Homo sapiens: one gene and its partner. The protein of the gene in region 1 interacts with the protein of each later gene in a biochemical or structural test. Each region holds a gene or a part of one and is shown in the gene's direction. Other genes may lie near its edges.

Region 1 (9,252 bases):
TCCACTGTCAGTGCAGAGCATCCTTTCCACCTCAAAAAAACCCTTGGTCCTGGAAGTGTAGCCAGCAGAATAGAACGTGGAATTAGTGACTTTGAGAAATGAATCTTTTTGTGTTAAGGGTGAATTTGTTTCTGAAAGGCCCTTGGGAACATTTCTGTAGTTTGTTTGTTTTTAAGAAACGTCTTGTTTCTGATGTGCATCCAGGAGCGCTAAAGGGATATGTATATGCGGAAGAATTTTCCTTCTATATTGGATCCCTGTGTTTTGTGCAAAAATAAATCCTGCTTTCCTAGTTATTGCTTGGTGGCAAGATACATTCTTAGAAGATACCTTAATTACCTTAATTCTTGCAAAATGCAAAGGCTTACAGTTTGATGTAGTAGATTGAGACTTTAGGAATACTAATAATAGTTATAACATATGTTTATTGAGAACCTACTATGTGCCAGGAATTGTGTAGACATTTTATACACACAATTCTAATTCTTGCAAATAGCCCGGCAAAAAAGGGTCCTTCTTTTGTCCCTATTTTAAACATGAAGAATCAGGTTTTTATAGCAGGGCTTATAATGTTTCCAGAAAATACAGGATTGCCTTGTATAGCAGGGAATCCTGGCCTGACATGATTTGAAAATCATGCTGAATAGCATAGTGGTTATGTCCCCAAGCTTTGGAGTAGAAGAGACCTGGATTCAAATCCTAGTTCGGTAGTTTACTGTGAGATCTTGTTTACTTAACTTTTCTGAGCTCTTTTTTCTCATATGTAAAACAGAGATAATAATACCTACATCAAAAAGTTTGTTTTGAGGGCTGAATAAAATAGTGTATGTGAAGCGCTTTGCACTCTGCTGTGAAAATAGTAAATGCTCACTTAATGGTAGCAGCTATTATCTGCTTACTTATTTTAAAATAAGTTATGTCTTACTACTACCTTTTGGGTCATTTTCTTGTTCAAACACTGTAATTTCTGTACTGAAACAGAAAGATGTTGAAAGTTGAAGGAACAGTAGATACTTGTTAACAGTAAAAAGCAGCTGGACACTTAGTAGGCAATTGCTAATGGTAGCTACAACATCTTGAAGGGATTGAGTGTTGAATGTCCCTGTTACATGAAGCCAGATGGCTCCGGGACCACAGAATCTTTATGGTAAGATACAACAATGATTCTGTGGTCAGGTACAACAATGATCTGCAGAGGGTTGTTCGCTTAACGCAAAAGTTGAGTAACTGCCCGTTTTCAGTGTAGATTATGTTACATGTAAATGTGGTAGGGAAATCTCCATTGAGAAATGGAGAGTCTTGTAGTATTACAAGTCATCCACCCACCCACCCTCTGCCATTTTGGGGTTTGGCAAATTCAGACTTTCTTAAAGCAAAATAGCTTGGATATTATCCTCTGTCTTGTTAGGGTTCATCAAGGAAGGAAGAGAGAATATTGATGCTGCATTATGTACTTTTCTTAATGCCAGGATTCAGGCTGCAGTATTGTCCACTTCTGACTTCTGTTGCTTTATGGGTTGTATTAAGGTCTCACCCAACCCAAAGCATAGTACGTTATTGCTCTTGTATTTGCGGTTCACGCTGTGCCCTTGGAAATCCTTTGGATTTCTGGCTTAACTTGTGCTCCAGTTACAGGGCAGGAGAGCCCTCTTGTGGCCAGCTGGACGGTGGCTCCTTCCAACCTCTACAGCACCAAATGCGCAGATAACAATTTTTCAGGTTGTGATAGGGCAATTTTTCTCTTGGAAATAGCTCTAAGGAGAAAACCCCTTTGTCCAAATCATCACAGTGCTGTTCATTCTACACTCATCACAACTCTTTACAAGTCAGTTGAAATATAATATTTTTCAATATAAGTCCTGACCTAGTCACCAGGATCTGACAACAGCTAAATCTATCTGAGTAGATTATAAGAGTGTCTTGTTATTGTGACTGAGGTTTAAGATGGTGAGCTAGAGGCCGCAGAAAAAAAGAATTCCTTTTTGCCTTCTGTTTAACGGGAGAAGTTATGTCTTATTTTATCTTATCCAAATATTTATCCATAGAAGATGACAGATATATTGGAAAACATGTAATTTATTCTGCTTACTAGTCTTTCATGGTTTTTTGAGGTATGACCTTGATGAGAACATAGAATCTGTAATGTTATTATATTTCCAAATGCAATTTAGAATCACTCCATGAAACTTTGTGGCCTGGCTTCCTTTACTAAAGGTTTCTTACTGCTCTCTATTATTATAATTATTTAACAGAGTCTAGTTTTGAAAATAAAGAATAAAAGCCTTCCTCTTCAATCTCCCTTGGAATGCCACGAATTGCTATGTAATATCCTTGCTATCTGCATTTACCGGTCTCTGAAAAGGACCCCATACCCTAAATCCAATCTTAAAAATGGCAATAATGATATCTACTCTACAGGGCTGTTGTGAAAATTACAGCTAATGTAAGTGTAAGTGCTAATTTAGGTTTCTCAATGCTTCTCAATTAATATTTCACTCAGCATTTCTCAATAGGGACACTATTAGCTTTTCCAGCAGGGCAGTTTTCATTGTACAGATCTGTCTGGAGCATTGCAGGACATTAGCATCCCAGTAGTACTCCTATTCAGTCACTTTGACAACCAGAGACACCGCCACACATCCTCCATGAGAGAAGTGCTGCCCTCACTTGAGAATCACTGACATGTAATAGACAGCTGATTCGTGATAGGTGCTGCTCCTTGTACCATTAGAACTGCAATAGGAACACTTTGCAGGTTTGCTCTGCAGCAGAAATACCCATAGGAGAGCTCAGGCCCTTGTGGTCACAGTGACCACAAGCAGAGCCTTCCCAGCTCAGGATCAGTCCTAGGACCCTTGCCTACCTGGAACAGGGCTGTCGTGGCAAACCTGCCTGACTGGTCACCACTTTGGGGCCTTAGCTTAATCAAGGAGCAATATCCCAGCACACAGTACCTGAGGAACAAAACCCAAGAGTATTTTTTCAGGCAAGATCCTTTAGATTCCTGGTCCCCATGTGAGCTTATTTGTTCTGACCTGTGTCTGGTCTAAACTTGTGGTTAAAAGTCTATTCAGTCATTTGACAAACACTTATCTGTACCTGCTGTGTGCCAGACCCTGTGCTGAGCACTTTACATGTATGATTTCATTTCATCCTCTCCACAGTCCTGTGAAATGGATATTATCCATAATTTAGAGAGGAGGAAAATAAAGCTCAAAAGGTTAGTTAGTTGTCTCTCAGAGTCATGTGGCCAGTAGGTGGATGGGCCACATTCAGCCTCAGGGATGTCTGACTCCCAAGTCCATGCTCTTGCCCATCTTATTCCTCGCGCTGCCTCCCCAGTGAGTGGGACAGCTCCTGAGCATGGAGCTAAACACTGGTGAGGGAGACAGAATAGCAAGTGGCCTGGTGAGTGCCAAGACATGGAGGGTGTACAGGATACAATGAGAGCACAGACGGAAACTGGGAACCTGCCCAGCCCGTGGTGGGGGTAAGGGGGATCACAGAAGGCTTCCTGAAAGAGGTGATGCCTGAGCAGAGTCTTAGAGGAGGATTAGGAATGAATCATACTTCGAAGTGAGAGAAGAGTGTTCCAGGCAGATGGTCCAGCACATTCCAAGAGGGAGGGTGGCAACTTCTGGATATTGGGATTAATTTAAGGACAAGGACAAGAATGGCAAATGATGCAGTTGGAGACCTCTAAAGATGCCTAACTGGTTTCTCTTCTAGAATAGATCCTGTGGCCTCGTGAGTAACCCAGATTGTTTTCTTTTAGCCAGGGACAAGTGGTGGCCTTCAGACCCTCAGATCATATCGGAAGGGCTCTACGCGATAGCCGTCGTGCTGAGCTTCTCTCGCATTGCATACATTCTGCCAGCCAACGAGAGTTTTGGGCCCCTGCAGATCTCGCTAGGGAGAACTGTGAAAGATATCTTCAAGTTCATGGTCATTTTCATCATGGTATTTGTGGCCTTCATGATTGGGATGTTCAACCTGTACTCTTACTACCGAGGTGCCAAATACAACCCAGCGTTTACAACGTGAGTATCTGAGAGCTTTCCCCTGAGGTTCTCCCTGGGCTTCCTGGGAATCCTTGGGAGTCTCCTGAAGGTGGCTTCTTGCAGAGACTGCTGTTTCCTTGCTATCTCTCAAGGTTAAAGGCAACTTTATTCAAGGGTGGTTTAGAGTTCAGGTTCTGGAGTTGAACAGATGAGTTGAGTTAAATCCTCACTTTGCCACTTACATTTCGTGTGACCAGAGCATGTTCCCATTTAGAAAAAAAAAAATCACATGTAGGAATGCTACGTTTTCTAGGATTTGACATTCTCAGCAATCAGGAATTATTTCATAAATGGAAATTTCATAAATGGAAAGACCACTACTAAAAACAGAATGCCATTAATATAATGTTGTCTTTTGTTTCCAAAGTTGATAGACTAGAGTGATGTGAAAATAATAATAAAAGCGAGATATTTTGTGGTGGTAAACTTTGGGGGTAAAGTTAGGACTGCAATCCATGAGTTATCTCAGGGTAAACAATGCAGCAGCAAGCATGCTGGCGAGTATTCTTGGGGCCAAGGGGAAATGGGTTAACATCTCTGATACTTCATTTTCTTGTTTTTAAAATGGTGATAATAATAGTACCTTCTTCATAGAGATTGTGCAAGGATTCAGTGAGATGATGTAACTCACGTAGTAAACTCAATATGTGGTAAAAAAAATTATTCTTACTGTTATTATTGTCTTAGCCTGTGTTGCCTAGAAAACAGAACTCTGGGTAAAAGTTGCATGCTAACACTTTATTAGAGTGAGGGAGTTGCAATCTAAGGGAAATAAAACTGAAGGAAAAAGGAAAGTGAAGAATGGGAAGAGGGGAAGCAAGTACAAAGTGCTGCTGCATGAGAGGTGTGTGAAGTGAAGATGGGGAAAGCAAATCCAGGCAGCTCCCTGGCCACTGCCCACCAGAATACACAGCATGGGCATGATGGACCTCTCCAGGGGGACTATCTGGAAAGACCACATCTCAGAATAGCCCATCAGGCTGAGAATAGAGAATTTATCATCCAGATCAGTCCCATCTGCTGTCTCTCATTAGTCACTCCATAGGACGTTAACTCACCTACACTTCCAGGGAAGCCCTGGGGAAGCCATATCCACACAGCATGGGAGGCAGGTCTGCGAGTGGTTGCAGGTCACTGCTCTCCATGCCTGGCTGGGCAAGCCAGGTCTTGTGTGTGGACACCCAGCAAGTCCTGCAGCATCATGTGCCTCTGCAGCAGGAAGGAAAGCCCATGTGAGAGAGGCAGGAGGCATGCAGCCTGAGCATGAGGCAAGACACTGAAATTGGGGTCCAGAAGTAGCTGCTAGGGGTGCTCCAGAAAGCAGGCAGAGTAACACAATGGCATGCACATCCCCCACCGTGGAAGTGGTGATGGAGCTCTCTAAGCCTGTGTCCACAAAGATCCAAAGCTCCTCCCCTGGGGATGGGCACGGGGCAGGATGCCAGATAGTCTCCTGGAGGGCCAGCCATCGGTAGCACCGAGAAGGGTCTAGTGGAAGAGTGTGGAAGACCTGAATATACTTCCTGACACAGGCATATACTGGCCGGTGAACTTAAGTCATTTGATTTATCTGAGCCTCTGTGTCCTCGTCTATAAAATGAAAATAAGGTTTCCCACCTTATTCACAAATACCTTTATGGATAAATGAGGATGTTTACATAAAGTGCCTGAAACACAGAAGTGTTTCCAGTCCATGTCCTGCCCCAGACCCACTCAGTTCCAGAACTTCTCCTTGCCTTCACCAAGCTCTTGGCCAAAGTCTTGAAAGGAGGATAGTCAGGTTTTCAGCCTTGTGGAATCCCAGCACAGCAGCCAGGATCAATGGGGCTAAGCACTTCCTGACACTTGTCCCCAGGAAGCCCTGAGTGGCCTAGAATGTCAGTTTTCCAGCTAGTAGAAATGGCTCTGATCCCTGCCCCTCAGACTCCCTGAGCAATTTCCAGGTTGCAGCAGGGCCTCATCTTACTCTTCTGGAGAAATCACCCATTAAGGTAAGATACTTGTCTCTGAGAACCAAGTACAATGAATTCTGTGCCACTTAGCTCAGAATTATGGACTGCGCTGCCCCACCCAGCTGAAACTACCTAAAAGAGTGGGACTCTGGTGCTGCTGAACCACAGAAGCTGTTACTCCCTGAAGCAAAGTAGTTTGTGTGTCAAGAGAATAGGTGCCAGGCCCAGTGCTGAGAAATGCACCTGAGAGGTGCTTGGCTCTGCTCCTCGGCCCACAGGCTATGTTGGAGCCTTGGTACCCCATGGACCGACAGACTAGGTTTCAGTCTGAGCTCGGCCTCTTACTGACTTTGTGGCCTTGGGCAAGTGCTTAAATCCCTTGGGCCTCAATTTCCCCAGCTCCAAAATGAGAATACTAAGAGAGCCAACTTCACAGGATTGTTGTAAGGATCCAATAAGAAGAAATACGACCAAATGCAATGCTTGGCATAAAGTGAGCCTTCAATAAATAGTAATGATGATAATGGAGATGGTGAATAATTTATCCTCAGGGGAGAATAAATTGCAAGAAAAGACACCTGAGTACTGAATTGGTCTATAGCGCCCTTTCTGGGCAGTGGTCTAGCTTACACACTGTCCACCAGCACAGGCCAAGCACATTGTTGAATCAGCTGGACTACTTTATATCACTCCAATACTTAGTGATTAACTGCTGAAGGAATAGAATAAGTTTCAATCACCCAAAAGCAAATTTGCTCTAGATCTGCTAAAGGTAAAACTAAATGTATCCACTCCACATGGGATGCATTGCTACTGAACATGGAGAGGATGTCAGCCGATAAACGAAGGCTCTTACTTTCTGTGATCAGACCCTGGTGTCCCTCCTGTGTTTCTAGCCTAGCATGGTGCCTTGCAAAGGTTGTTTGCTCATTAAATGCTTTATGAACAAGAATGAGGGAATAAACAGGAGAAAGGAAGCCAGAGTCAAAGTAGTCAAATAAACAGTAGACTGGGCATTTGACAGTGTGCACTTCTATCCTGTTCCTACTGCCCAGAGTATTCTCTGCAATCCCTCTCTTCCCTCCTCTACGGAGAGCCTGTATCACCAGCCCACAGTCCCTCACTCCCTCAGAAGATCAGTGCCATGACACACAGAAAAATGACAAAGGGGCCAGGCCTGGTAGCTCATGTCTATAATCCCAACACTGGGAGGCTGAGGTGGAAGGATCCCCAAGAGTTTGAGACCAGCCTGGGCAATACAGTGAAACCTCATTAAAGAAAAAAGAAGAAGAAGGAGGAGGAGGGAGAGGAAGGAAGGAAGAAAGAGAGGGAAGGAGGGAGGGAAGGGAGGGGAGGGGAGGGCGAAAGAGAGAGAGAGAGAGATTATGACTTTAGAGTAGGGCTGACCTAGCCACAATTCTCAACTAGATGCAGCACAGCTAACCAATACAGGGAGGAAGGCAGGTGGCCTGGGTTGGGGTCTTTGGGATTAGGAAGAGTGATGGGGAAAGGCAAACTGAATGAAGATTTCCTAGACACAAGAGACCCAACCAAGAGGACCCCAGACCTTCTAGGAGAGGGAAGAGGATAAAGGGTGGGGAGGCGGCAAGCACAGTGAAGAAAGGATGGGAGATTTATCGCCGTGGCAGTTCCTGAAATGAGATGTGTAGCTGTGAATAGGATTTGATTGAACAGAAAAACAGTCAATAGAGCAGTGAAGTGGAGAGAGAAAAGAATGGATTTTTGTAAATGTCATCTTTTACCTTTTGACTGCTCTCCGGTGCATGTCACCCCCAAGAGATCTTCTTTGTTAATTAAAAAAAAAAAAAGCCATGTGAGAATAAATGAGACTCGTGCCTTAGGATACTCAAAGCTGTTCTGAGTGCCAGCCATGCTGATGATGAAGTCAAACAACTTCACTCAGGTGAATGTTTGCTCCAGAGCAGCCCATCCCCAGGCTGCCCTGCCCAGCTCATAATCTTCCCTTTGACCCACCCACAGGTGAGTGGCCTGTTCTCTGTGGAATTTTGAGCTTGTAGGGTAAGGCAGGAGTCTATAGAACTCAGCATCTGTTTCTATAGACTCGGCAGACCCAATTCTACAGAAGGGAAATTTGGGTTGGAGCACACTGCAGGTATCCCCCCAGCCCCACTTTTGACCTCCCCCCAACCCCATTCCTGCCACATCCAAGGGCAATTGGAGTCTCTAAAGACTGTTCAGGAGTCCACTTCGAAAGTCAGCTGTTAGAAACCTACAGGGAGCTTTTTCATATGAGCTCTGCTCACCCTAGGGGTGCAGTCCCAGGCCAGCTCACAAAAACCAGTCTCACCATGTTGTAGCACTGTCCCAAGGGGAAGAGGAAGGGCAAGCATTCTAAGACAGAGGGAAAGAAGAGAAGAAAGACTTCTCTACTAACTGCAGCCCCAACCCTCAACCAAGGCCTGCCCTATCGCCCAGTGTCTTCCAGTTCTAAAATCACATACCGCCTCCCTCCGGCCACTCCCAGATTCTCATTTTCTCCATCTGGCAGACCTCAATGAAGAGGCTAGAAGAAAATGGATGGATTAAATTGGTTTAGCCCAAGGTGTGAATAAATATACAGTATGAGCAGCCTTAACAGAGCAGTGGTTTTCAAACCACATCAGAGTCACCTGGGGAGGTGGCTAAACGTGGGACTTCCCAGGCTCTTCCTCTTAGAGAGTCTGATTATAGTAGTTCTGGGTAGGACCCAGAAATCAACATTAACAAGCCCCTGGAGGATTCTGGTACAGATGGTCTAGGATCACAGTATGAGAAATGCTAATCTGATCCAACCTCATCATTGCACCAATAGGGAGATGGAAGTCACTCTCAGCTCTTTGTACTTCAAAAACAAGGAGCTTGTTAACTTAAGTGAATATCTTATTAGTAGGATTTCAGGCTCTATGCAGGCAATTTTTTTTAAGCACAAGCTACTGAAGAGGTAGCCAGATCCAGTGGGAGCAAGCCCCAAAGTCAGATCCTATTAATAGTTCCCAATTTTTCAGCCTCCTTCCTCTTCAGAACCAAGAATTTTCTCAAAGGTCTGGGTTGTTTTTCATAGCCACTTCTGTGTCCAGTGCTGGCCTAAGGGGAGGAGCATGGGTCACTAGTTGGTGAGCTGGGGCCTGTCTGGGCATGACAGATAGTACACCTGCTGGCAACTCATTATCTCCAAGCCACTTCTATTAGAAACTGAAAATGACCACAGGTGAGGAAAG
Region 2 (7,000 bases), on another chromosome or scaffold:
CTTGGTGGTGATTAAGGGAGCTGTGCTTCCTGCTTCCTTGGAAGTTAAGAGTCAAAGAAGGAATGATTTGTAAGTGCTGTAAGTAATCAGTCCAGCAGCTTCAGCGTCACCAGGAAGTTTGTCAGAAATGCAGAATCTCAGACCCCGTGCCCGTCCTACTGAATGAGAATCTGCATTTTATTAAGATCCCCAGGGGACTGGTGCATTAAAGTGTGAGGAGCGTTGCTCTGAGTGATTTTCTCTCTGCCCCATCCTCCTCAGAATCCTTCTGCCTCCTTTCTGAACTCTGGTCCCCTCTGCTTTTCCCGAGGCTGTTGGTGCCCATGTCTGTGAACCCATAGGCTGATTTGACTGAATTCCTGGGCTAACCCAGTGCCCAGTGTGTGGGCCCCAGGAGGTACCCAGTAAGGGCTGGATAAAAATGAATGTGTTGAAGGCAGGGGTGGCCTTGGTGGGCAGATGGGCCAGGTCACCTGGGAGATGGGAAGGGGGCATTAGTTGGGGAGGGAGGCAGAGGCAGCATTCAGATTCTGGCCAGAGCTCTTCAGTGCAAAGTGGACGAGGCCAATTAGAGCCTCCTGGAGAATTAGAGGTCCTAGTGAAGATTGTACATTAACTCTAGGTGGGAAGGATGGGAGGGATCTGGGTAGTGGATCCAGGAGCGGTTGAGACTGCCAGCCGGCCAGCAAGGGAAAGCAGGCCCACGCCTGTTCTTGGCAGGAGAGCAAGGCCAATGCCACTGCTTTATCCCTTACCCTAGGTGGGAGCAGCAGAGGCCAGGGATGGAGTAGCTGATTAGGGCCAACAAAAAGTGGAGGATTGAATGTGGCCTCAGGCCAGTGGCTAGGGAGAACTGGCCTTGGGTACACAGGGTGGACCCATCAGGATCTCAAGTCATCTCTTGAAGATCTCTTTTTTTTTTTTTGAGACAGAGTTTCACTCTTGTTGCCCAGGCTGGAGTACAATGGGGCGATCTTAGTTCACTGCAACCTCAGCCTCCTGGGTTCAAGCGATTCTTCTGCCTCAGCCTCCCGAGTAGCTGGGATTACAGGCATGTGCCTCCACACCCAGCTAATTTTGTATTTTTAGTAGAGACTGGGTTTCTCCATGTTGGTCAGGCTGGTCTCAAACTCCCGACCTCAGATGATCCGCCTGCCTCGGCCTCCCAAAGTGTTGGGATTACAGCCGCGAGCCACTGTGCCTGGCGAAGATCTCTTATGAGTACCCAGAGAGGTAGCCCCAGACCCACAGAAAGTAAACTGGGGGAGTGCAGGTGAACTGGGTCTTGGAGCTGAGCTTTCAACATTTGTCAAAGTGCCTCTGCCCACCCATGGCTCAGCCTTGGAGCCTATTTGGAGCTCTCAGGGCCTCTGGACCTGGATCACCCAGGGCTGGGTAATCATAGTGAGTAGGAGATGCTGCCTCTTACCCATGGGATTCTCTGTCTACCTGCCAGCCTGACCTGCTTCCCTGGAGGTCAGGACCCAAGAAGTATGGGGGTGAATATAGACGAAGCCCCAGGTCTCCAGGCTCAGGATCCCTAGGTCGGAAACCTCAGAGGCATAGCTCTCAGGAAGGGTGTCTGTCTCATGTTCCATCACCAACTTGTTGGGTGGTTTCTGTTTTGTTTTGTTTGAAATGGGGTCTTTGTCACCCAGGCTGGAATGCAGTAGTGTGATCTGGGTTCACTGCAGCCTTAATCTCCCAGGCTCAAGCAATCCTTACAACTCAGCCGCCCGAGTAGCTGGGACTACAGGCGTGTGCTACCGCATCTGGCTAGTTTTTGTATTTTTTATAGAGATGGGGTCTCCCCTTGCTGCCCAAGCTAATCTAAAACTCCTGGGCTCAAGTGATCCTCCCTCCTCTGCCTCCCAAAGTGCTGGGATTACAGGCATGAGCCGCCGTGCCTGGCCGTTGCTGGATGCTTTGAACAAGGCCCTGCCTTCTCAGAGTGAGTTTCCGTCAGCCTGCATTATCCTCTATGGTGCTCTGGCTGTACCTGAGAATCACCTGGGGATTAAAAAAAAAATTTCAGCTCCCAAGTCCCATGCCAGACCAACTGAATCACCATCTCTAGGGCTAAGGTCTGGGTGTTAGATTTTTAAAAAGTTCTCCAGGTGGTTTTAATGAGTACCTGGGGCCGGGATCCCTGATCTGGGGGCCCTCCCAGGCTGACAGGCTGTGAGGAAGCCTGCCTGCTAGGTCTACCTGCCCCTCAGCCCAGAAGGCCCATCTCTTTGCCCTCATCAGACTTCATAATGTCATTCAACAAACATTTATTAGGCATCTACCATGTGCTAGGCAAGGCACTGTTTTAGGCACTGCAGAATCAGTGGTACCCAAGGCACAGGTCCAGCTTGTTCCGTTCTGTGCAGTGGGGCCCTTTGAGCCTTAAGTCTGAGACACATGTAATTCCAGGAGCAGGGGACTGCCTTTCCCTCGCTGATAGCATTCCCTGGGTGGATTTCAGACCTGTCTTGGCTTTCTTTCTTTTATTTTTTTGGAGAGAGTTTTGCTCTTGTTTTCCAGGCTGGAGTACAATGGCACAATCTCAGCTCACCACAACCTTCGCCTCCCAGGTTCAAGCGATTCTCCTGCCTCAGCCTCCCGAGTAGCTGGGATTACAGGCATGTGCCACCACGCCCGGCTAATTTTTTTGTATTTTTAGTAGAGATGGGGTTTCTCCATGTTGGTCAAGCTGGTCTTGAACTGCTGACCTCAGGTGATCTGCCTGCCTCGGCTTCCCAAAGTGCTGGGATTACAGGCATGAGCCACTGTACCCGGCTTGGCTTTCATTTAATTGTGATTTCATTGGAAGAAGATGTTAGACTTCTGTTCTGTACCTCAAGGCAGATTCTTGGTCTTAGCCTAATCCATGCAACTCATTTTTTGAAAATATATATATTTTTTCAGATTAAAAAAAAATATACATTCCATGGAGAAAATGTGAAAAACTCAAAAAAATGATCTGTAATACCACTATGGCTTACATGAACATTCCCTATGACCTTCTAGCCTTTTATATTCATAAATGAACATTTACAAACAATATCAAACTGCACGTATGGCTTTGTACCCTGTCCTTTTTTGCATATATATAGTGAGCTGTATTTTCCCATGCCAACACACCATTGTTATGGCTGCACAGCCATGGTATGCTGTACCTTAATTTATTTAAGCAACTCTAGTATTCAACATTCAGGCTCTTTGTAAATTTTTGCTGTTAAGAACAATTTGCCCTGAACATCCTAGTGCATGCATGCCTGAACACTTGTCTAGTTATAGTTATCCTCTCAGGTAATACGTTCCCAGAAATGGAGATCAAAGACAAGGTACACCTTTAACTCTTAGGCTGTCTAACTTTTTGTGTTTCTGTGGTGGTGGAGGGGTATAGGAACAGAACTTGGTGCCACAGAGGGTCAGACATGATTCATGTCATGTGTGAGTGTTGCACTAGCATGTGGGGAGTAAGACCAGCCTCTGCCCTCAAGGTTAGGTACTAGGCACTTCCCAGGCAGTGCGAGGATGTGATGGAGAAGGGATGAAGTGGAGAGGGGGTGGCGCGGGGTTGGCTCAGCCTAGAACCAGTGCCACACATCCACCTTGAGACTCCAGGGTCTCAGGCTGCATCCAACTGCTCGGCCTGAATCCTGCCGGCCTGAAAGAATCCTGCTGGAGCCACTTGATTACACTCTGCCCTGCCCTACATTCCTGACCCCATATCCCCTCCCTAGCTTGGCCCACTGGGGCGGTGGCTTGGGTTGGGGGTGGGGACACATGCTGAGTTTTAGGGTGGGGCCACACCAGCTTTCTGTTTTCAGCTTAGGGGGAGGTTTCTGGGTTTGGATGACCTCTGCACACATGCCTGGAGTCCCTGCATGTCCACCCCCAGCCCTGCTCTCTAGACTTCACCCCATGTGGGGCTGGGACACCCCTCTCTGGGAGTGAGGGCTGTGTGAGTGGAAGGGAAGAAACCTGGGGTGGGGGAAGGAGGAAAGCAGAACGCAGATCTCTACTAAGTTCATCACAGGCCTCTGAATGTGAGCTCTGAGCCCCCTGGGTATGTCAGGCTGGTCATGCGAAAGGTGCCAGTGACACCCAGCATTTGTACCTGCAGTCACAATTCCCTGCAGTCAGGACACCTGGCTTGGAGAGCTTGGGGTCACGCAGCAGGGGACTGAGAAGAGAAGTTTGTAGGGCCTTTCAGGCTAGGGACTGTGAGAGAAATCGTGGGTGCAGAAATGAGGCTGGGCGTTCACAACACAGTGAGTCCAGGGTGTGGGCTGGGGATGGAACTGGGTGGAGCCACATGCCACATTACAGAGGGATTTCCACTTGGGGAGACAGTCAGGAGAGACTCATTGCAGAGGCTTCAGTGAGGGAGTAAAATGGCCAGAGTGCTATGTTTTTTTGGTCAGCAGGTGGGCAGAGCCGGAAGGGGCTGTCAACACAAATCTCAGTCCAGGAGCAGCTGCAGGTGCTTGAGGCAGACACCTGTGCATATTTGGTTAGCAAATTGCTCTCCCCATCGCTCAGCCAGCCAGCCCGCCAGCCAGCCAGCCATTAGCCCTTCCTGCACAGTGCAGGAGAGCCCTCTTCTCCAGTATGAGTCTAGAAATAGATGATGGGGGTGATATAGGTAATGGGAGGGAAAATTAAGTCTGTGTCTCAAAGATGATGATGATGATGGCAGTGGGTAGACTTTACAGATCACTTACATTGGGTGGCCCTGGCCTTTACCTATGCTCTCACAGCCTGAGGCATAAATACAATTCAGGAAAAGTAGTGGGAAGCATTTAGAACACCAATTTGCTTACCACCTAGACTTAATCATTGTTTACAGTGGTCACATTTGATATTTGTATTTTTTGCTGAAGTATTTTATGATAAATTACATACATTGCATCTTTTTCACCTCTAAATATTTTATTATACATCCCTATGTAACTACAGTGTTGTGATCACACCAATTAATAGTTTCCTAATAGCATTCAGGGCCCAATCCATAGTCAGATGTGCCCATTGTCCTCAGTGGTGTGATCAGAGTTCACTGTAACCTCGAACTCCTGAGCTCAAGCAATCCTCCTGTCTTGGCCTCCCAAAGTGCTGGGATTACAGCCACTGGGCCCAGGTTGTCTGTGTTTGACCGACCATTGGTTTCTTTTTTTTTTTTTTTGAGATGGAGTTTCCCTCTTGTAGCCCAGGCTAGAGTGCAATGGTGCAATCTCGGCTCACTGCAGCCTCTGCCTCCCGGGTTCGAGTGATTCTCCTGCCTCAGCCTCCAGAGTAGCTGGGATTACCAGTGCCAGCCACCACGCCCAGCTAATTTTTGTATTTTTAGTAGAGACGGGTTTCACCATGTTGGGCAGGCTGGTCTTGAACTCCTAACCTCAGGTGATCTGCCCGCCTCAGCCTCCCAAAGTGTTGGGATTACAGGCGTGAGCCACCACGCCGGGCCTGACCATTGGTTTCTTTAAATCAGGATCCTAGGCCAGGCGCAGTGGCTCATGCCTGTAATCCCAGCTCTTTGGGAGGCTGAGGCAGGCGGATCACGAGGTCAAGAGATCAAGACCATCCTGGCCAACGTGGTGAAACTCCGTCTCTACTAAAAATACAAGAATTAGCTGGGCATCGTGGCACATGCCTGTGGTCCCAGCTACTCGGGAGGCTGAGGCAGGAGAATCACTTGAACCCGGGAGGTGGGGGTTGCAGTGAGCTGAGATCGTGCCACTGCACTCCAGCCTGGCAACAGAGTGAGACTCCGTCAAAAAAAAAGAAAAACCATCGAGATCCTGTCAAGGTACTCGTGTTACATTTTCTTATGCCTCTTCAGTTTCCTTTAATCTAAAACAGCGCCCCGCCCTCATCTCCTTTTCCACCATGAACACTGAGTTTCTGGCAAGGCGGGGTTGTGGTGTAGGCTGCTTCACTTTCTGGATTGATTTGTCAGGGCTGCCTTTGTTGCTTTGTTTCCCAGAGAGCTCTGCGGAGGTTTGGAGCCAGGGCGAGTTGGCCTGAGGGTCTGCCCTGCTGAGGGTCCTACAGCCTCAGTTACTCTGTCAAGTGAGAAAGACTGAGAGAGTCCAGTTCTGGGTTATGGAGAGTGGGAGACAAGCCTGGGGCTGGCAGGCCAAATATATGAGGCAAGGGCTGGCTGGCGGCCCATGGTTGCACCTTTTCTCCCTCTCTTCCCAGCTTTCCCTTTGGTCTCCTGCTCCCTGTCTTTCTTCTCCTTGGCCTTACAGATATGTCCTCCCATGCACCCAGCACCGCTGTAGAGACCCCAGGACTTGTCAGACAGCCCGCCTGACCCTGACAGCCAGAAACCCAGGCCTGTGGCAGAGGCAGGGTGGCACACTGGCCCCGACCTTTATTTCTACTGGGCCAAGTTTAGTTGTTCTTGCTATCTCCATTCTTCCTGGAGAGACTATTTGGGTTCTCTGCGTGTGCGGCTTATTGTCCTTTCTAGACTTTAAGCTTTCTGAAGGCTTTAGCTGTACTTGTTTTAAAATTCTATATATTCCATATACTGTCTGGCCCCCCGTTGGTTGGCACAGGGTGGATTCTTGGTAAAGATATGTAGAGGTAAAGGAAATGGTTGCTTTTGCAGGGATGCAGGAGTTAATTTCTTTTCTCTGATGAGCCAGGAGCCCCAACCAGTGAATCTGGGTTTCTCTCTTAACATTCCGCCTAGTAGGTGTGACTTTGGCTATCTGGAGAAAGGGCCCCCCAGGCTTCCCACCCACCACCAGCCCATCCCAGTGTTCTGACAGTGCCTGCTGTTGGAGTGGCCTCCTTGGGGCTGGCCTGCATCTGTGGAGTGGTGGCCAGTTGTAGGGTCTAGCCCTACGGGGCTTAGTGGGTGTTCTCCCCATGTGCGGAGATGAGAGATTGTAATAAATAAAAGCACAAGACAAAGAGATAAAGAAAAAACACCTGGGCCGGGGTGACCACTACCATCAAGACGCGGAGACCAGTAGTGGCCCTGAACGGCTGGGGT

Evidence for each region.
Region 2: the proteins of TRPC7 (region 1) and ITPR3 form a complex in vitro, tested with the Homo sapiens proteins (one study listed by BioGRID).

What each region holds. Positions count from the first base shown.
Region 1 is NC_000005.10:136,242,259-136,251,510, reverse strand, and holds part of TRPC7 (short transient receptor potential channel 7), read left to right. Parts: intron 1-3,775; coding exon 3,776-4,040; intron 4,041-9,252. UniProt on the Homo sapiens protein: Forms a receptor-activated non-selective calcium permeant cation channel. Probably is operated by a phosphatidylinositol second messenger system activated by receptor tyrosine kinases or G-protein coupled receptors. Activated by diacylglycerol (DAG).
Region 2 is NC_000006.12:33,624,322-33,631,321, forward strand, and holds part of ITPR3 (inositol 1,4,5-trisphosphate-gated calcium channel ITPR3), read left to right. Parts: exon of another isoform or gene 1-69; intron 70-5,716; exon of another isoform or gene 5,717-6,063; intron 6,064-6,922; exon of another isoform or gene 6,923-7,000.